3 linked regions of the Homo sapiens genome follow. The protein of the gene in region 1 interacts with the protein of each later gene in a biochemical or structural test. Each region holds a gene or a part of one and is shown in the gene's direction. Other genes may lie near its edges.

Region 1 (7,411 bases):
ATCTGCTGACCCCAGAGCAGAAAATCCCTTCTCTGGCTTCAGATGATTCTTCTCTGGTATCAAGAGGCTGAGCAGACCCTTCACCTGCAGGCTTGGAACAGAGCCAGCCTGGCTGCCCAAGCTGTCCTCCTGGCACCAGTGCCTGCTTCCCAGCCAGCAGGAAGCCAGGACTGCCAGCCAGTGCCAGGGTAGCCAGGAGTTGCACAGCTATTAAGTGTCACAGGTAGGATTCAGCCTCAAGCAGTCTGGCTCCTATCATTCTCGAATCCTGTCTCTCCTGAAACTTGAAGTGAGTCAACTGCCAGCTACTTACTCGGCTCCTTCATGATTTATGCGTGAATTTCTGCCCAAACCCAACTTTGATGGAGCCCTACTTGGAGGGAGGGGCTGGTAGGAGATGATGCCCTGGACCCTAAAAACCAGTAGGCTCCCAAAGAGAGGACTGCGATAGCTGGAAGGGAACCACCCTTCCCTCATACCCCCTCCCCGAGCACCTCTCTGCCTGTTGGCAAAGATCAGCTGTTCAACCTCAGGATATTTATTTATTTCCAGCCTCGTTCCCAAAATGATTTGAGAGAGCTTAAAGAAATAGATGCACAGTATCTCCACTGTTAAAAAAATGGAGCTCAGACCTGAAGCATCCCTGAGCAGGCAAAACAAGTTAGGTCTCGTAAGGGACCTTACCCTTGCTTGATTTGCAGACATGCAAAACTGGAGCTCTTCCTTTCTTCTTTCCTTCCTTCCTTCCTTCCTTTTTCTTTCTTTTTCCTTCCTTCCTTTCTTCCTTTTCCTTCCTTCCTTCCTTCTTTCCTTCCTTCTTTCTTTTTTCTTTTCTTTTCTTTTTTTTGAGACAGGATCTCACTTTGCCACCTAGCCTGGAATGCAGTGGCATAATCACGGCTCACTGCAGCCTCCACCTTTCTGGCTTAAGCGATTCTCCCACTTCAGCCTCCCAAGTAGCTGGGACAACAATTGCATGCCACCACACTCAGCTAATATTTTCTTTTATTTTTTGTAGAGATGAGGTCTCGCTATGTTGCCCAAGCTGGTCTCCAACTCCTGGGCTCAAGTGATCCTCCCACCTCAGCCTCCCAAAGTGCTCAGATTACAGGTGTGAGTCACCATGCCTGCCTTTGAGCTATTTCTTGTAAATGCCTATATTAAAGAAAAATAAAACTTAAGTGCAACTAATGAGAAGCAGCCAGCACAAATAATTATATAACCAGGGACTTTCCAATGGGATAGATCAAATAAGGCAACTGTATAACTGTAACCAATCAAATATTATATTTGCTTTACTTCTGTATCTGTCTTATAAAAACCTCCCGCTTGTGCTCCCTCAGTAGAGTTCCCAAGCCACTTCTGGTTTGGGACTGCCTGATTCAAAAATTGTTGTTTGCACAAATAAACTCTTAAAAAATTTATTGTGCCTCAGTTTACCTTCTTAATACCACTAAAGATACTCCAGTAAATAATGCCTAGTTTACTATCTTGACAGCCTCATAATTAATACCATGATGATGTGATATCATTAGATCATTACACATAGAGTGACTAGCTTGTCCTGGTTTTGTTAGAACTTTTCCAGTTTTAAAACTGAACATCCCTTGTCTTGCAAAACTCCTCAGAGACAGACAACAAAAAGTTGGTCACCCTCATTACACAGGATTTGGACCATAAAGTCTACTTGCTAGGTTAAAAATTTAGCTCTGAGTTTCCTAGCAGCCAAGTCAAAGAGAAACACCATATGTCATAAAAATTGTTTATTCTATTGACAATTCTCCTTCCAGAAAAATTTATTTTCTTATTTATTTTAACATCTATAACAGCACTATCCGTAGAACTTTCTGAAATAATGCAAACATTCTGCACTATTCAATATAATAGTTTCAGGCTGGGTGCGGTGGCTCATGCCTGTAATCCCAGCACTTTGGGAGGCGGAGGCAGGTGGATCACCTGAGGTCAGGAGTTTGAGACCAGCCTGGGCAACATGGTGAAACCCCATCTCTACTAAAAATACAAAAATTAGCTGGGCACGGTGGCACACACCTGTAATCCCAGCTACTCGGGTGGCTAAGGCAGTAGAATCGCTTGAACCCGGGAGGTGGAGGTTGCAGTGAGCCGAGATCGCGCCACTGCACTCCAGCCTGGGCGACAGAGCGAAACTCCGTCTCAAAAACAAACAAGCAAACAAAATCAATATAATAGTTGCTAGCCACTTGTCTCTATGGAGCACTTCAAATATGGCTAGTGTAGTGAAATAACTGAGTTTTTATTTTATTTCATTTTAATGTACTTAAATTTAAATAGCCTCATTTGGCTAGTGGCAACTCTATTGGACAGCACAGCTGTACTAGATACAAAGAAACCAAGTGCTCAGGAAGAGCCTCTTTCCTAATATTGAGGCCTGAGGAATTTCTCCCATGAGTTATCACAGGAGGTGAGTACAAAAGTGAGTTCCACCTAGGGGCTTTTCTCTTTTTATATTATATACAGTATAATAGCTGGCTCTTCTAAAGCATAGGCTATGTGCTAAGTACTCTCAGGCACTTTTTTTTTTTTTTGAGACAGAGTCTTGCTCTATCGCCCAGGCTGGAGTGCAGGGGTGCGATCCCAGCTCACTGCATCTTCTGCCTCCCAGATTCAATTTTCCTGCCTCAGCCTCCCAAGTAGTTGGGATTACAGGTGTGTGCCACCACACCCAGCTAATTTTTTATATTTTTAGTAGAGACAAGGTTTCACCATGTTGGTCAGGCTGGTCTCGAACTCCTGACCTCAAGTGATCCACCAGCCTCAGCCTGCCGAAATGTGCTGAGATTACAGGCGTGAGCCACCGTGCCTGGCTGGAGGCACTCTTTTCATATAATAATTCCTTCAATTCTCAAAACTATCCTAGAAAGTAAGAAATTTCAGTACCCACAGGGAGAAAGCTCCTCCCAGGAGAAATCCTGAGAAACCTAAGGCTGCCCTTTCCCTGAAACACTGGTACATCGGTCTCCCTGCCCTTCCTAGAGAGAGCCAGGAGCCTGGGGGACAGGCAGAGGGCTAGAAAAGAGCAGGGGAAGAGACAAGAGGGAGGGAGACCAGGAAGAGGGGGTTCCCAGATGTCCTTACCCCCATCCCAGCTGACGCTGCAGGACTGACATTGACTACATGGAAAAAGTGAGCAATGTCTGGCATCACCCCCTGGTACCAGAGGGCATTTGGGGAGTCAGAAGGAAGACCTCATGTGCCAGGCCACAGAATGCACCTGCATACCCACAGGCATGGAGCCTGGGCCAGGCCCACCTAGGACAAAACACCTCTTTCGAGTTTTTTGCAGATGGTCCCCTGACATCCTTCACCACACTGGTCTGACTGCCAGGATCTCTTGGGCCTCCTGGGCCCCTCACGCCCTGGTAAGCAAAGGAGGAGGCAGGTGTGACCCCCCCACCCCCGCCGCCACTCCATCTGTGACTGGGAAGCTGATGACTCCAGGGTCAGAAATAACCCCACGGTCAGCTCCCTGCATGCCGCCCTTCCCCTCCCCTCCATTCCCAGAAAGCCTGGGCCCTGAGTCAGAGGGAAGAGTCGAGAAGAAAGGACTCAGATAATCTGGAATGAAAACCATAGAGTCCTGCTGTGGAATTCATTCATTGGGAGGCCGAGGCAGGTGGATTACCTGAGGTCAGGAGTTCGAGACCAGCCTGGCCAACATGGTGAAACCCCATCTCTACTAAAAATACAAAAATTAACTGGGTGTAGTGGTGCAAAGGAGGAGCTGGGCCTGGCCAATCTCGGCCCAGTGAAGAGCTGGGCCTGGTCATTCAGATGTCTTCCCCCCAAATCCAGCTTCATCGGGGCTGTGTTGACCTGTGCTGTGGGGCACAGGGTGGAATGGATAAGAAAGAAGGAACTCTTTAGTGCAGAAGGGAATGGGGAAGAAAGAGAGCTGAGCATCACACTCAGAGGTATCCAGGCTCAGAACAGAGGAGGAGGTGCCCAGCCTGCCCTCAGGAGACCTCCAGTCTCCTGGCACGGTGGGTGGAGACACGTCAGGAAGAGTCAGAGGCAGGGCCAGAGTAGAATGATGGGGGCTCACAAGACGGGAGCAAGCTGTCCAAGGTGTCAGATGCCTCTTCTTAGTCACTCTCTCAAAATAGTCTGGGACACCCCCAACCTCACAACCCAGCTGAGTCACTGACCCCAATCCCCAGATCAGACTTTGGATGAATGAAGCTTCTCCCCCTCTGTTTCCCCTCCCCAGCCCAAAGGACATGTAACTGATTCCCCAGGATGGAAGAGTGACTTCCACAAGACCTAAAAATAACCGAACCACTTAATACTCGGAACATAGCCTCTCCCACCCGCCCCCACCACGGCCCACCCACTAGCCAGCAAGATAAAGGCAGCTGCTGGGGCTGGCAGGGGACAGAGACCTGGAGCCAGGGCAGCAAGAAGGTGTCTGTTGGAGCCAGCAGAACAGAACCAATTTGAACAAGAACCTCCAGAGGAACGACGAACCCTGAGACCACAGCTGCTACAGACCACAAACACCCCATCAGCCAAGAGAGACCCTTGGTGAGTAACCTACCTCTCCATCCTTCCACAGCAAGGCTGGCTTTCACAGCTGGGATCCCCTCTCCTTCTGAAATGGACGTATTAGGAATGGCTCTGAGTAGGGGAAGGAGATTGAGGGGCATGCATGGGAGGAGGTGAGTGGAAGTCTCAGACATAAAGAACCCACAAAGGAGGTAAAGACAGTGTGAGCCCCATGGGAGCTCTCAGAGTGGCTGCCACAGGCCTGAAGCTAGCAGAAAGGATAGGCTCCTGCCAGGCTGGCATGATCCAGAAAGGCCTGGAGTTGTGATTTTTAAAATACAGGTATGGAGTGCCTCAGGCTTCAGGGCTTCCTCCCAGGGAAGCTTCAGGCAGGCCCAGGATCTGGAGGAAGGAGGAACAGGAGAGAGGTGGGGGCAGGGGGCTGTAAGTAGGCCTGAGTGTGCATTGCTAGAACAAGCCCCATGCCTAGTTGTTGTGGATGACACTCTTGGCATATCTGGCCCAGGGATAGCTCCCAGGGGCTGGCCGGAGCCCAGCTCCCTACATATCATAGCCTAAAACCTGGGGTGGAATTCGGACTCTGCCCATGTCCATAGTCTTGCCCAGTGGGAAAGCCCCCAGGGCAGATTTGGGGGGCTCACGGGAGGGAGACCAGATCTGAATTTGCCCAGATGTAAAGACATATGGAGCCAGCTGGGCCAAGGAGGAGGTGACCCGAGGACAGCAGGGGGACCATCCTGAGAGGCTGGCCCAGCCCTAGGAGACCAAGCTCTAGGACAGTTCTTGGGGCTCACCCCACGTAAGTCTGGTCCCAGTTATGAATTCTGTCCTGACTCTACACTTGTCCCAGCAGTCTCAAGCCAGGCAAAGATGGTGGTGGGAAGGCCAGGAGTCAGGAGACATGCTTCAGGCTTTGCTACTGCCTTGCTGAGCCTCCTTGGACAGCTCCTTTCCCCTCTTTGGGCCTCTGTTTCCCTATTTGAACAATAAGGGGTTTAGATTGAGTGACCTCTGAGGGTCCTTAGGCCTGACATCCCTGGACTCCATGATAATAACTGTCTGTGGCCTTAGCAGAGATTCTGGAAATTCCTGGGGGCGGGGGTGGGGTGAAGCTGATGGTGTGCACACACCATCTGCTCAGGCCACCCTGGTGGTGACAGGATGGAGTAGAGGTGGAGACAGGCTCAGGTTTGCCTTGGGCAGGGGATCCTCATTGGAGCTCAGAAATGAAAGAAAACCACCCAGAGCTTTGATGAGACTCAGGCTGCAGGTTTCAGAGCTCACATTCCCCAAAGGTTCTGATGTCTTTGGTGGACATGCCAGGGTGGGCATGGGGTCAGCAGGTCTCAGTTTCCTCTCTCCTCCTTCTGAGGTAGCCATAGGGAGGAAGTCCTGCCCCACTTACTTCCAGTACCTCCCCCCAGTGCAGACTCCTTTGGCCAGGGAAGGTGTCCAGGTTCTAGCACCTGGCTGGCCTGCAGCCCAGGGGCCTGACACCAGCCCAGGAGGCAGGATAGGGGAGCCCAGGCTAATGAAGGAGATGAGGTGAGCCAAGGGTACTGAGGGTCCCCACTGGCTGGGCCTCAGCCTCCCTCTGAGCCCAGGGCTGCTGTTCTGAGGCCAGGACCTCAGCTATATTTAGCACCCTGTGTGGTGCAGAGCAGTGGGTCAGGGGCAGCAGGAGGGGGCACGTGCTTCCCATTCTTTCCCTACTGGCCTCTGGGGACTGTTAGTACACCTGTCACAAGAGAGATAAGACATACATGGACAGAGACCAGAGAAGGGCTTGAGGGGTGGTAGGTCATTGAGGGGCGGGGGTGTAGCCGGGGAGAGGCTGAGCTGGGGTGGCCATGAGGCCTGCAGGGGTAGGGCTTAGCCTGAAGCCCCCCTGAGTCCGAGCCCCTGAAGCTGTGCTTGCTTGCTTAGAGAGCGGTATCCAGGAGCAAGAGGCAGGGCTGTCTCTGCAGAAAGGACCCTGATCCCATGGTCCTCTCCCTGGTTGTTGTCACCCTCATATCCTCCCAGGGGTGCCTGCTGGGGAATAGACGGGTTCTATGGCCAATAAGAAAGCTTTACACCTGCTACCCTCTTATTTCTTGGGGCCATGCCCTAAATGGAGTCTAGGGACCCCAAGCCAGCACGGCCTTCCATTTATTCACCAAGATCTGACTCTGGGCCTAAGTTCCCTCATCTTTATTTATAAATGATTGTGCTAAAAGACCTTTGAGATCCCCCTAGCTCAGACATTCTCAGTCTTCGAGTATAATGCAGAAAACCCTGACCAGATATTCAGAATTTGGATCTGGCCTAAGCACGAGATATCTGATGAGCAGCTTCCCAGCCCTGATTCTCAACTGCTTCCGCTCTAGCATGGGCTGTTGGCCTCTGCTTGCCTCCTTGGGCCTGGGAAAGGTTGGAGTGCGTTGACAGCCAAGAGGTAAAAGTTAGGCAGCGTTCCAGGTCAACATGGCAAGTCTGCCCTCTGGTGTTCTGCAAAGGAATCTCGTCTCCATAGGAAATCAGTCACCAGTTTAGAGACCTGCCTCTCCAAGGCTGGGACTCCAAAAGTCAGGATTCCCCCAGGCCACTCCCCTGGCAGTCTTCCAGGGAAACACTGATTTTTAACAAAGGAAGGTGAGGATGGGGCATGTCCAGTTTGCCCACTGGAGGTTTATGCGTCCCTTATGGAGCTAAAGGAAAGTGTCTCATGTCCAGTGGTACCATGGTCACTCCCTAGCAACGCATGAGATGTAGGGAAAGCAGGAACCCACTATGATTAATGGGTCCATGTCCTAAGTTCAAGACCTGTTGCCCACGAACCATGCAGGCAGCGAAGTGAAGCCCAGGCCAGGCACATAGAGAGAGGGAA
Region 2 (7,106 bases), on another chromosome or scaffold:
AAGTTTTCTTTCCACATGGGTGGCTTTGAGATTCAAACATGTAAATTTCAACATCGCTATTAAAGCTTAAGCAAAGCTCTAAGATTATTTTCTGTTCTTTTAGAAACAATACAAGAAGGACTTAGAAAATGAAATTAAAGGGAAAGGAATGCAAGTGAGCATGGATATCCCAGATATCCTTCGAGCCAAGAGGACATCTGAAATCTATAGCCAGGTTGGTCATGAATGAAGATGCTCAGAATCGTGTATTCCAATGTCATGTTGCCATGTGCTTTGTATGTCTCTATGAATGATATCTTTCTGAGGGCATTGCATTCAGAGCTAGTGTACTCTTTCACTAAGAAACCATTGGCCAAACTTGATTAACCGTACTAATTAATAGGACAACAGTCATAGATTCAATGCAACAGACATTATGGAGAGCTACAGCCTCTCTGTCGGGGCTCCTTGTTTTGAGTCCAAGGACATTAAACCTTTTTTTTTTTTTTTTTTTTTTTAAATTTTAGAGATGGAGGTCTCACTCTTTCACCCAGGCTGGAATGCAGTGGCACCATCATAGCTTGCTGCAGCCTCAAACTCCTGGGCTCAAGCTTATCTTCCTGCCTCAGTGGGCATGAGCCATTGTGCCCAGCCCAAGGATATTTTAACCTTTTCTTTCTTTCTTTTTTTTTTTTTGACCCTATTGGACACTTGGCTCAAATGCTTTTGCTAATACTACAGAAAAATAAATTACAAACGTTTTGTCTTTTAACCATTTCATAATGAATATTAATATTAAAATAGTTCCAAATAAAGCTAACAGTGGCTAAAGCTGCACAAGGTATAAAGTGAAGTTTAGTGTTAGGTAAAAATTAAGGGAACAGTGAGGTTTTCTTGGTAAAATTTAGATTTGTCAAATATACTTGTCCCATATTCTGTAAACAAAGCTGGATGTGGGAGAAGTAGTGACCACAAAAATTTATGGAAGAAGAATTTATTTATAAAATCTGACTTGGGCAAAAACATTCATTAGCAAATAATATCTTTGCTGTAACATTTACTAAAAAAGAATGACTCCCAATGGAAAAAAATAGAAGGAATGAAAAAAATGAAAATGGTTATTTAAAATTGACCATAGCATTTAATTTGATTAATGGAGTTTATGCAGAAAGGATTGTGTAACAACATTTGGTGAAATTTGTTAAAATTCTGATTAAGACATAAGCAAGGACATTAACCATCCACTAGTTCAAAAGGGTAGTATCAAGATGGCAGAGTCAAATGTCAGAGGACTTGTGTGCCTCTCAGCCTCCGCAGCCGACACAGCCGCTGGGATGATCCTGAAGTGTGTGTTCTGTTCTCAGTGTTCGTGAACTTGGAGACATTGGCTTGGCCATATCAGCTTAACTAAAATCCTAAGTCAATGCATTAAACAACAAATAGACATTTGAGTCAGTGGAGAAGAGTTACTTACTCTCTCAAGAATGCCAAATTCATTCCTTCAGTAGGTAAATACCTCCTGAGCACCCATTTGCAGGCAAAACTAGACATGGCTTTGCTCTTGGAAAGCTACAGATAAATCTAATAATCATGTAAATATAGTATTACAACCATGATATATACACCTGAAAGTAAAAGTATTGAGAGTGAAGGTGCCTGAGCTGTCAGATTTCCTGCATTAACTCAACAGCATAGATTTTTTTTTAGTGTGGTGTGAGAATATATCTAATTTTAAGGGATTTTAATCACTGAAATACAATTGGGATACTTACGAGGGTGTAATGAAGCCTGGTGCATTTCAACATGAATAGTAGTTACCTTTCTTTTTTTTTAATTTTATTATTATTATACTTTAAGTTTCAGGGTACATGTGTACAATGTGCAGGTTAGTTACATATGTATACATGTGCTATGCTGGTGCGCTGCACCCACTAACTCGTCATCTAGCATTAGGTATATCTCCTAATGCTATCCCTCCCCCCTCCCCCTACCCCACAACAGTCCCCAGAGTGTGATGTTCCCCTTCCTGTGTCCATGTGTTCTCATTGTTCAATTCCCACCTATGAGTGAGAATATGCAGTGTTTGGTTTTTTGTTCTTGCAATAGTTTACTGAGAATGATGATTTCCAATTTCATCCATGTCCCTACAAAGGACATGAACTCATCATTTTTTATGGCTGCATAGTATTCCATGGTGTATATGTGCCACATTTTCTTAAGTAGTTTGCCAGAATAATTAACTTCACTGATTTTGGAATCAGAGAGCCTGGTTTTAAGTTGAGGCTCTGATACTTACTATCTAGTACTTCAGTTTCTCCATCTGTAAGATGGAAATAATAATAGTATCTGCTTGTCAGGTTGATTAAATGAGTTAGTGTGTGTTAAGTATTTAGAACAATACCCATTACATAGTAAGTACAATGTAAGTGCTGGTACTAGGATAAGATATTGCCTGGGTTGTATTAGAGCTCATAGTAGCTCATTTAGTGGAGAGAAAATTAAGATTTTAATCTCAACTTCAAAATACTGTTAACTTTCCCTTAATCAAATCTATCTTCACATGAAGTAGGAAGCAAAGCGTAAATCTAGAAGCCATGTCGTATGGTAGAGATCGAAGAATGGTATCATTCTATCTCTGTCTCTCCACCTCTCTCTCTCTCTCTCTGGGAGTGTAAGTCAGTAAAAACAGTTTTTTACTCTCTCTCTCTCCCTTCCTCCTTTCCTGCCTCCCTCCCTCCCTCTCACATGTGCGCACACACATAGTTTCAGATTTATATTAACTGTTTATGTTTTTAGAGAAAGTATAAAGATGAAGCAGAGAAGATGCTTTCTAACTATTCTACCATAGCAGATACTCCTGAAATTCAGAGAATTAAGACAACTCAACAAAACATTAGTGCGGTGAGTAGCCATTACTTCTTTTAAGTTGCCACCTTGAAATTTTGTTTTGTAAGAAATGGTCTTTTTTCCTCATTGTCTGATGTTTTCTGCTGTCTTAGTTGAATTTTCTGTCAAGTGTATTATCTTTATTTCTTTAAAATAATAAGAATACTGATAATTTTTACAAATTATCATTTTTCATTATTTTTTTGGAATTACAAATTCAAAATTTCCTCTTCGGTATAAATGACAGTTATTAACTAAATTTTAAAATTTAACTCAGGAAAGAAGTCTGTCTTCTACACAGATTTTACTTTGAAGGTGAAAATAGTCATATGAAGTGATTTTATTCCTGGTTATTGATTGTTTTTACTGATAATATGTCTAACCATTTACTCATTCTTAATAAATTTCTAAACTTCTATATTTTTATTTTGAGGAAGAGGAATTGCATCAGCACTTTTTTTTTTAACTTTTATTTTAAGTTTGGGGGTACCTGTGCAGGTTTTTACATAGGTAAACTTGTGTCATAGGGGTTTGTTGTACGATTATTTTGTCACGCAGGTGTTAAGCCTAGTACCCATTAGTTATTTTTTCTGATCCTCTCCCTCCCCTCCTTCTTCACCCTCTGATAGGCCCCTGTGTGTGTTGTTCGCCTCTGTGTGTCCATGTGTTCTCATCATTTAGCTCCCACTTATAAGTGAGAAAATGCGGTATTTGGTTTTCTGTTCCTGCATTAGTTTGCTAAGTATAATGGCATCTAGCTCCATCCATGTCCCTGCAAAGGCCATGATCTCATTCTTTTTTATGACTGCATGGTATTCTGTGGTGTATATGTACCACATTTTCTTTATCCAGTCTATCATTGATGGGCATTCAGGTTGATTCCATGTCTTTCCTATTGTAAATAGTGCATCAGCACTATTAATTAAGAGGCTGAGTCCATTAATAAATGTATAAACTTGACTTCTGTTCTAAAATTGTAAAAATTGACCATACAACTAATATTTTAACATAGAATTAGCTCAGTCATTAATAGTTAAGGAAGCATCTCATCAAAATATAAATTCTAGTAAGTGTGAGGACTTCTGGAATATTTCCTACCTCCTAATTAGTTGGCAAGCGCCAGCTCTCAGAGTAAGCTGGTCAGATGTCTGCTGGGTCTCCACAGGGATGGCCAGGCTGTACTGAGAAATGGGAAAGTCTTGATGGAAGGATGAGGAAAAGAGGCTGTGTGATTCTATAGTGTTCTGTAGTTCTAGCCTTTGGAGGAAAACATCTCTCCTACCGTGCTCTCCCACCCACGCGGGGGCCACTGGATTACCAAATGTCAAGAAAGGGAGTAATTCTATCCTCATTTACCTTTCTTATAATTACTCTGTTTTTCTGCAGAGTACTCATAACGAGGGCACTCATAAATACTCTTGTGTTTTTGTTCTGCTTTGGGTTTGGAAGGGTAGACGTTAGTAGGGGTGGAGACACATGGGAGAGGGTTAACAAATAAGTGGAAGATGAAGAAGATAGACTTGAAATTAACATTGATATTGATGATGAGCTAACATTTTCTTGGAAGAGAATGTGGGCATCCTTGTGTTTGGAGCATAGAAGTTGCCTAAAATGTCATTTTCTTTTTGAATTCAGTGATAACGGCTTAATGGGCTTTTGTAATATCTGCTTTTTCTCAAATACACATGGGACATATATTTATATTTGAAGAAAGGAACTCTGGTTTGCCAATGTGTATTCTTAAAGCAAATAATCTGCAGTCAGCCATGGTAGTGGTCTAGACCTAGAGCAGGAGAGGGTTATTTGTGAGATTATGGGATATAAAACCAAAGTTTTCATGGATTATCTGAATGGATTATTTAATTTGTTCCTATAATTCCGGCACTCATAAATAGATGCAGTATTCATATTATTATAAAACCTGAGAAATTGTCTTTCTAAGAAGCGGATCTAGGACTTGAATTCTGACAAGCTTAGTTATTCTTTTCCTTTTCTTATAATAAAGGTATTTTATAAGAAAGAAGTGGGAGCTGGCACTGCAGTGAAAGATAGCCCAGAGATCGAACGAGTGAAGAAAAATCAGCAGAATATTAGTTCAGTAAGTTCTCTACAGCATTAATTATCTTTTCTAAAAGCAAACCAAAACTATAGACAAATGTTTTTAGTTCTTTACTCAACTGATGGCTTTTTTCCTTTTATTCTTCACTTTATTGAAATGCTATTTCATCATATATCAAAGATCTAACTTTCAGAACAAAAACTGTATCCTTGTTCCCCTTGACTCTGAAGCAGTGTTTCATTTTGATATATCACAATGAAGAAGAGCTAGGTCATTTTAATGAAACCTAGGGTTAGATTTCATCTCTTTGAAGAGAATTTTAACTCTATTAAATTTTGCAGAGAAAGGATACATTTCAGTACCTCTCCACAAGTTGGAAGAAAGAAATTTTTCCCTGATACAATGATTAAAGGCCCCAGAACATTTATTTGGCAGCTTAAGTGAAGGATTAGATTTGAAAAGGCAAATAGTACCAGTTCATTTTTAACCGATGTCAGTCACATCTCTAAGCTTTTTATCAGACACGCTTCTGCCCATTTCTTCTTTCCAGCCTGTTTTACCTTCTGCTTCTTCCAGCAGAAACGAAAACAAATCACACATCTTCACTATAAATTGTGAAATAACTTAGCTTCCAGTAACCTTTAGACTGGGGGGAGGGGTCCTCTTCTGTTGGAAGGGTCCTTCTAACATTAAGGTGCTTAATATTACGGATAAATTGTTTTTTCCATTGAGTGTTTGACATTTGCTGTGGATAATTGCTCTCCTTACCAATTTGATATTCTCCCATGTATATTTAGTACATTGAGTTTCTTTTTTTTTTTTGAGACAGAGTCTTGCTTTGTTGCCTAGGCTGGAGTGCAGTGGCGTAATCTCAGCTCACCGCAACTGCCTCCCAGATTCAAGTGATTCTTCTGTCTCAGCCTCCCGAGTAGCTGGGATTACAGGCACACACCACCACACCTGGCCATTTATTTTTATTGTTTTTATTTTTAGTAGAGATGGGGTTTCACCATGTCGGCCAGGCTGGTCTCAAACACCTGACCTCAAGTGATCCTCCCGCTTCAGCCTCCCAAAGTGCTGGGATTACAGGCATAAGCTACTGTGCCTTTCCGTTACATTTAGTTTCTTGAGGAAGTAAAAAGGATTCGTTCTTTAAATCCCTTACTCTGACTTATCTTTTCACCTTATCCTTGGAAAGAGCACCTTCCCTTTAAGTAATCCAAGCAGAATTGCCTTGATTAGACTCATCTGTGGGTCACTTGGTCATTATGCAGCATCCAGAGAATATCAGTGTGGGTCAGCGTTTGTGAAGAAAGTGTAGGAGAGGTAAGAGAATGCAATAGTAAAGTATACTTCAAAATAAAAGCATAAAAAGTCTACAGAATATGAGTGCAATAAAACCTCTGTAGCACCATGGAGCTGTCTCTTGAATAAAGTGTAAGGAGGACCTAGGCTTAAGGTGTGGATGAGAGTGGATGAATGTGTTCTTCTGATCTTTCATGGTGAGAGCCTGTGTTAGCCTGGTAGATGAATTAGGTTGGGAGAGAAGTATAAAATATTCATTGCTTCTCTTTCCAATGATAATATTTAAAATGCACCCATCGATGTACTGTGGTTTAATATTATAAATATTCTGTAGTGTGCAATTCTATAGACTACAGTGAAATAACTGTGCCATTTTGATTAGAGTCCCTTTGAAAAACAAAAGTGTTCATCTTTAATCATGTTAAGCTTCTTACCTGAGGAAAATCCCAGAGTATTACAGTATATCATTTCTTCTCTTAGCATCCCACAGCCTCTTCTAGCAAACAATAAATGCATAGTTCTGTATCTGCATGAGGTTGGGCCATAAACTCCTGCTTAGTATTCAAATGGAAAGTTGCCCTTTTAAGATTAGCTAGATCTGTCAAACCAAGATATGATTCTCTAACATTTAAAGATCTCGACATTTTCCACCTCCAGAGTACAAGCCTTTTAGCTGTTAGCTCTCTGTCTTAAGAACTATTTTTGAATTTTATTTAGAGGTAGCCTGTCTCAGTGAACTTCCAATTTAACTGTTTTGGGTCTGGACTAATATTGGCATTGTTACTTACATGAAATCCACAGATACTAAGACATAGATGATATCTGAGATATTTAGGTACTGTTTCTTTATGACAGTCTGCATGGTTTTCACCCTTAA
Region 3 (7,106 bases), on another chromosome or scaffold:
ACTCCTTTGGGGGTATCCCTAGGCAGATGGAGAAGTGGCTTGGTGAGCCCTGGTGGCGCTGAGCTCCTCTCCTCTGCCTGGCCTCCGAGAGGGAGGAGGGAGAGGGAGGTCATTGCTTCCAGAGTGGGACTTGGGGCCCCACTGCCCTTCTCCTGCCCCAAGCCTGGACCACTTGCTGTCTGGCCCAGGGCCAGTTGCTGGGGAGAAACTTCCCTCTCCAGCAAATATGAATGACCACCCTCCCCATATACACACCGCCCCCCCCAACCCCTGCAGCCTCAAGGCTTCCTGCCCAGGGGTCTGGCTCCAGTTTGCAAGAAGTACTTCTGGGCGTGTGAGCTTTGGAGGCTGTCGGGGTTGTGAGAGGCTGGGGGCACTGGGGCATCCAGACTGTGTGAAAGTGTTGGAGCCTGTGTGTTTGAGAGAAAGCACCGGGAGGCAGGGAGTGAGTGTGTCATGGAATCTGAAAGCTGCCAAACCATTGTGCTGCAGTGGAGCCAGGGGAAGGGGGTGGGCTGGGGAGCTGCTGGGGAAGGAAGGATGAATCAGTGACAGGGTGGGGGAGCCCAGGCGGCCAGAGCCCCAGCCAGAGGGACAGGGAGACTGAGGCACCCCTCCCGGGGCAGGTGGGAGTGGGGCAGGGGATGCCCTGGATTTCCCAGGCTCTCGGTCTCCTAACACTTTCCCCAAGACCTGGGGAAGGGTGGAGGGGAGAAGATGTGTAAGGGGAAGGCTCCACTCCACCCTCTCCCATCTCTCGGGCAACATCAGTAAACAAGACTGTCTTCCACCCCCTTCCAGCCTCCTGAAAGCAGTGCTTTGGGAAGCTGATAGATTTCAGAACTTCATTGCCCTTTACAAGTAAGCTGAATTCCAAAGATCTATCTACATGCTAGGCCACCCCAGGCTTCTGGATATTTCTTTCTGATTGTTAAGGGGGATCTAGGCGCCCCCCCCCCCCAAATCTTGAGGAACCAGTTCTGGCTCAAAGGATTCCTCAAAGGAGGTGATGGGTGGAGTGTGTCAGCTCCTGAGGCTGGAGTCCCTCTGGCCCCCAGCCTTTGACAACATGACTTTCAAGACTTAACTGAGAATGTACTGGACCCCACCCACCCACCCCTGCCCCACTATCAGAACCCCTTGGTTTCTAAAGCCCTTTCTGGCATTCGGGGTAGAGTGTGAGTGGAAACTTGTCCTACCCCACTCCAATTTCAGTTCTTAAAATATTCATTCAACCAATATTTATTGAGACCTTACTATGTTTAAGACCTTCATTGTAGAAAGATAAAACCTAGTGTCTAGAGTGAAAAAAACCAGACCAAAAAAAAAGAGAGTATATACTGTGTGATTCCATTTATATAACACTCTAGGAAATACAAAGTAATCTATCGTGACAGAGAGCAGATCAGTTGTTGCTTGGGATGGAGGGACAAGGACGGCAGGAGGGAGGGCTCACAAAGGGGTGTGTGCAAGGAAACTTTGGGGAGTGATGGATGGTACCTTCGTTATTCTCCATCTGTGGTGACGGCTTCGTGATATATCCATAGTGTCAAAGCTTCTCAAACTTCATTCTCTAGCATGTGCAGTTTGCTGTATGTCAATCATAGCTCAGTAGAACTGTTAACAAAACAAAAAGGCTCTGCCCTGGGAGCCTTACAATCCCACAAGGCCAGAAAGAAACCAGGTAATTACATAGACAGGAGGCAGACTCACTTGCTGTAGCTGAGGTGAGGGTACCTTCCAGAACCACAGGAACACAGAGAAGCAGCCTTCTGACCGGAAGGGCCCCATAAAGAACTTGGCATCTGAGTGGGGCCTCGCAGGAGGGAGAGGGTCAGGTAGGCAGAGACTAGAGGCCTGACCCCAGAGCTCTGGCCCGAGGAGCTGCGCAGGTGAGGGAGGGTGCTCTGGGGCAGTGGAGGGTGGGGCGCCCCTGAGCCCGTCTGTGCCCTCCCCTCTGCAGACAGCAAGGCCATCGTGGATGGGAACCTGAAGCTGATCCTGGGCCTGATCTGGACGCTGATCCTGCACTACTCCATCTCCATGCCCATGTGGGAGGATGAAGATGATGAGGATGCCCGCAAACAGACGCCCAAGCAGCGGCTGCTTGGCTGGATCCAGAACAAGGTGCCCCAGCTGCCCATCACCAACTTCAACCGTGACTGGCAGGACGGCAAAGCTCTGGGCGCCCTGGTGGACAACTGCGCCCCCGGTGAGTGGGCCAGTGAGCACAGCATGGAGCCCTTAGCTCCCAAAGACAGAGGGGACAAGCTGGGGCTGCCAAGGCGTGTGGTTGTCAGAATGCACACCCTGGGGCCTGGGGGCCAGGATCCCCTGCAGGGTTTGTCCTCCTCCAGCTGTGGCTCTCCGCTGGCTGGTGGCAGGCCCTACCTGATGAGTGTGCCAGATTCCGCAGAGGCAGGAAGAGGTTTAAAACCCCTCATTTTACAGACAAGGACACTATGGCCCAGAGAGGGCTGGTGACTTATCCAAGATCACACAGCTTATCTGTGGCAGAACCACCTAGAGCCCAGGGCCTGGACTCCCTGCCCCATGAATTTTTTACTGTGCCACGAGGCACTATTCCTGCCGAGCTGAGAGAGAGGCAGTGTGGTGACCAGGACTTGTAGCAAGACCAGGAGTTAGATCCAGAGAAGGCTCTTCTCTGGGAGACCCTGGGATGACTTTGAGAAGGGGTTGAGGCTCAGGATGATGTGGGATGAGGCCAGTGGGGCACTGCCTGGTGGCAGGTGAGCCAGCCTTGCCCCTTCTCCGTGTAGGTCCTGGCCTGGTCAAGTGGGGACAGCTCAGGGGCCATGAAAAAAGCTGAGGCATCACTGGCTAGAGCGTACCCCATGGACAGCTCCCTTTCTGCCCCTCATCTCCTGAAAAGATAGGTTTTCTCCAGGAGTCACAGCCCCTCGGGAGAATCCTCCTCCACCCTGGGGTCAGCCGGGGAGCAGAGGGTGGGAGGCGGGGGCACAGCCTCCTGGGAAGCATTCCCAGCTGCTGAGCCATGGCCCATAACTGGTGTGGCTGCCAGCAGTGAGCTCAGCTGTTCCAGCCAGTCATGGATTCCAGCCTTGAGCCGGCCCCCTCCCCGAAACGGTGTGCCGTCCCCCTCCTCCAGCTCTGGCCTAAACCAAGCGCCCCTTCACCTGCACCGTTCATAGGAGTGATCTGGGGCTGCCTCAGCGTCCTTCCTGTTAGGAAGGCAGGGCTCCTGAGGGCTGCAGAGGAGAAGTCATTCTCTCCTCACAGGCCCTTTAATGCCTCAGTTTCCCCAAGTGAGCAGTTAGAAGGAATAGGGAGTCTCATACCCTAAGACTGGTGTGGAAAGCGTTTGGAGTTCTAGAGCTTCGGGGCAGCTGTGAGGAGGCCTTCTAGGGGGGATGGGTCAGGGGCATATGTGGGACAGGCACTCTGACCTCCTCTGCCCACCCCTGAGAAAGCTGAATGAGGCAAGAGATAGCGAGAGGGGGTACCCTCCCAGGGTTTGGGGTTCAAGGTCTGAGCTGGGGCCTGGGCAGGCAGGAGGCCGGCCAGCAGGGCTGGTGCCAGGCTGCGTCAGCCAGGGCAGAAAGGCTTCATTGTTGGTGGTGGAGAGGGCTGTCCTGCTCCTACGTGGTGAGGGGCCTCGAAGCTGATGGGGTCAGCAGGAACCTGGCTGGTCAAGGCCTAGAGCTGGTGGGAAGGGGTGTAAAGCCACAGCCTCTGAGGGTGTTGGGTGAACAAATGCCCTGCATCCTGGCCGGCTGGCTGCCCCTCACCATCGTCTCCCTCCATCACCTCTCCAGGTCTCTGCCCCGACTGGGAGGCCTGGGACCCCAACCAGCCCGTGGAGAACGCCCGGGAGGCCATGCAGCAGGCCGACGACTGGCTTGGGGTGCCCCAGGTACATGCGCAGATGGGGCAGGGGGGAAAGGGGGCAGGGGCAGAGGTTGGGTCTGTAAGTTTACCTGGCCAGGGTGCAGGGGGAGACTGGGGCTGCTGGGAAAAGAGGGCGCCATGTGACATCACTCCTTTCCATCGCAGGTCATTGCCCCTGAGGAGATTGTGGACCCCAACGTGGATGAGCATTCTGTTATGACCTACCTGTCCCAGTTCCCCAAGGCCAAGCTCAAACCTGGTGCCCCTGTTCGATCCAAGCAGCTGAACCCCAAGAAAGCCATCGCCTATGGGCCTGGTATGTGTGAGCCCCTGGCGGCCCTCCTGGGCAGCTGGGCACATGTAGGCTCTCCCTGAGTAACCTGGGCTCTGCTCCTGCCCCGTAGGCATCGAGCCACAGGGCAACACCGTGCTGCAGCCTGCCCACTTCACCGTGCAGACGGTGGACGCGGGCGTGGGCGAGGTGCTGGTCTACATCGAGGACCCTGAAGGCCACACCGAGGAGGTATGCAGAGGCCGCTGGGGACAGAGGGATTCACTTGGGATTGGAACCAGAGAGCGTGGGGCCAACAACAGGAATGGCCCGGAGGTGACTGCCAGAGCCACACACTGTGCTGTGCAGTCTGGGGAAGGTGTCACCATGGGGGCTGAGTGGGGCTGGGGTGCATAAGGCACTGTGGGGTCAGGAGGGGCTATGGTCATTGGAGAGGCTTCCAATCTTTTTCCTTCCTAATAGGCTAAGGTGGTTCCCAACAATGACAAGGATCGCACCTATGCTGTCTCCTATGTGCCCAAGGTCGCTGGGTTACACAAGGTATCTCCCTCTAGGCCCCCCTGCCTGCGCTGCTCTTCACATCCTTGGTTCCGGCTGCATGGACCCCTCTCTCAGCCTGTACCTCGCGCCTGCCCAGAGCCCCAGCTGCCCGCCTCTCACCCTCCTTGGCCTGGCTGTGCCCCTCTGCCCCCTCTCAGGACTGCTCTCCCCTAGAAGCTAACCTTTGACCTCTGACCCCTAGGTGACCGTGCTCTTTGCTGGCCAGAACATTGAACGCAGTCCCTTTGAGGTGAACGTGGGCATGGCCCTGGGAGATGCCAACAAGGTGTCAGCCCGTGGCCCTGGCCTGGAACCTGTGGGCAATGTGGCCAACAAACCCACCTACTTTGACATCTACACTGCGGGTAGGACGGGCCCCAGGGGGTGCAGGTGGAAAGCCCCTGACCATGTGGGGCTGTGTGGGGGTGGGGGGAGGCTGGGACAGGGATGCCAGCCAGAGGGTGGGCAGCCTCAGGGTGAGGGCACCGGGGCAGCTGTGTGTGTCCAGAGTGGTGCTGACAGCCTCTGTTTTCGGCAGGGGCCGGCACTGGCGATGTTGCTGTGGTGATCGTGGACCCACAGGGCCGGCGGGACACAGTGGAGGTGGCCCTGGAGGACAAGGGTGACAGCACGTTCCGCTGCACATACAGACCTGCCATGGAGGGGCCACATACCGTGCATGTGGCCTTTGCGGGTGCCCCCATCACCCGCAGTCCCTTCCCTGTCCATGTGTCGGAAGGTAAGGGCCCTTCACTGCTCCCCACGGTAGCCCTTACCAAAGCCAGAGGCTTGCAAGGGGCAGGAGGAAGAGCTGGGGCGGGGGTCTGCAGAGACCCCCTCCCTGAGTCCTCCATCCCACCCCCAAGGTGGCTGGAGTTCCTAAGAGCACAGCTGGGAGGCCACAGTGAAGGGTCCCAGAACATGTGCCACCCTGGGAGGGCTGAGCGGAAGTGACGGGGCTGTATGGGTGGGGGCATATCTAGGGAGTACTGCCTGCATGCCAAGCCCTCAGGTGGTGACTGCCCCACTTGTTCTCTCCCTGCACTCAGTGCCCATCGTCCACCAGGCCGAGAGTGATGCCACATTAATGCTCTCCAGTGGAGGCGGGGCCAGGCATGGCCGCAGCTGACTGGCCTCACCTGTGCTGTGTGGCATGGCCCGGGCCGTGTGGAATCGCCCCCCCTTCCTTGGCATTCTGTGGCAGGCCCCAGGTTCCATGCCGTTGTCTGTGTTCTGTGGCAGGTCTAGTGTCTTTGCCACTTGCCTGGTGATTTCTATGATGAAATCTGGGCTCTGAGCCATTGCCTGTGTTCCGTGGTACCCCTTGGGCAGTGCCATCGCCTATGGTCATGGTAGTCCTGGAATATGTGTCGTGTCCTGTTTCGTAGCACCTGTGGGTCCCATGCCATTTTTCTGGATTCTGTGGCAGGCTGAGATTCCCATTCCTTTGCCTGTGTTCCATAGCAAGGCCTGGGCTCATTGCCACTGGCCACGGTCTGTGGTAGGCTGATGTCCACACGTTGCCTGTGTTGTATGGCAGGCTTCGAGTTCTATGAAGTAGCCCTTGTTCTGTGGCATTGCTGGATGTTTTGTGGCATGACTTAGATCCTAAGGTTGCTTTGGTGCCCTGAGAGGCCCAGAGGGCTCTAGATGGATGGCCTTGGGCTGGGTAAAGGGGCCTTCCCTGTCTCTCTGAGCCCACTCTCAGCCCAGGCTCTGCCATGCATTTCCCCAGTGGCACTGGCTCGGAAACTTTCTTGTAACCTGCCTGATCTGGGGCCTGTAGCCAGCTCCAGCCCGGCAGCCCCGGTTGTGCTGGGGACACAAAGGGCTCCAGAGCAGGGCCGTGGGCCACTGCCTGTGCCTGGGAGGGGTTAGAAGGACTGTGCACAGGGAGGTGGGGGCTAGTGGTCCAAGGCCCCTCAGCACCCCCAACCTCCTTTCTCTTCCTCCCCTAGCCTGTAACCCCAACGCCTGCCGCGCCTCTGGGCGAGGCCTGCAGCCCAAGGGTGTTCGCGTGAAAGAGGTGGCTGACTTCAAGGTGTTTACCAAGGGTGCCGGCAGCGGGGAGCTCAAGGTCACGGTCAAGGGGCCAAGTGAGTGCCAGAGCCCAGGGTCGTGAGGGTGGGGCTGGGGGATCATAAGGGAAGTATGGCCAGTGGTTCTGACTCCCAGAGGGCAGTGACAGCCAGCACCACAGCTCCACAGTGACCAGAGGCACCCCAGAATCTCAGGCTCATTGTCTCCTCTCTGCCTCAGTTTCTTGGTCTACAAGCCAGGAATGATTCTCTCCACCCTAAGTGCTATACGGGGTGTTATGCACAGGGATGACAAGTGTTCCCTGCCCTGAGTTGCAGCACTGCTCACTACAGCACTGCCCTCGGGCTGGGTCGGGGTCCCAATG

Evidence for each region.
Region 2: the proteins of XIRP1 (region 1) and NEBL form a complex in vitro, tested with the Homo sapiens proteins (one study listed by BioGRID and IntAct).
Region 3: the proteins of XIRP1 (region 1) and FLNC form a complex in vitro, tested with the Homo sapiens proteins (2 studies listed by BioGRID and IntAct, with this or other methods).

What each region holds. Positions count from the first base shown.
Region 1 is NC_000003.12:39,189,595-39,197,005, reverse strand, and holds the start of XIRP1 (xin actin-binding repeat-containing protein 1), read left to right. Parts: upstream 1-4,410; 5' UTR 4,411-4,560; intron 4,561-7,411. UniProt on the Homo sapiens protein: Protects actin filaments from depolymerization. Required for correct cardiac intercalated disk ultrastructure via maintenance of cell-cell adhesion stability, and as a result maintains cardiac organ morphology, conductance and heart beat rhythm.
Region 2 is NC_000010.11:20,824,304-20,831,409, reverse strand, and holds part of NEBL (nebulette), read left to right. Parts: intron 1-103; coding exon 104-214; intron 215-2,775; coding exon 2,776-2,880; intron 2,881-4,870; coding exon 4,871-4,963; intron 4,964-7,106. UniProt on the Homo sapiens protein: Binds to actin and plays an important role in the assembly of the Z-disk. May functionally link sarcomeric actin to the desmin intermediate filaments in the heart muscle sarcomeres.
Region 3 is NC_000007.14:128,833,363-128,840,468, forward strand, and holds part of FLNC (filamin-C), read left to right. Parts: intron 1-1,963; coding exon 1,964-2,212; intron 2,213-3,797; coding exon 3,798-3,895; intron 3,896-4,035; coding exon 4,036-4,186; intron 4,187-4,274; coding exon 4,275-4,393; intron 4,394-4,624; coding exon 4,625-4,702; intron 4,703-4,904; coding exon 4,905-5,067; intron 5,068-5,240; coding exon 5,241-5,441; intron 5,442-6,660; coding exon 6,661-6,798; intron 6,799-7,106.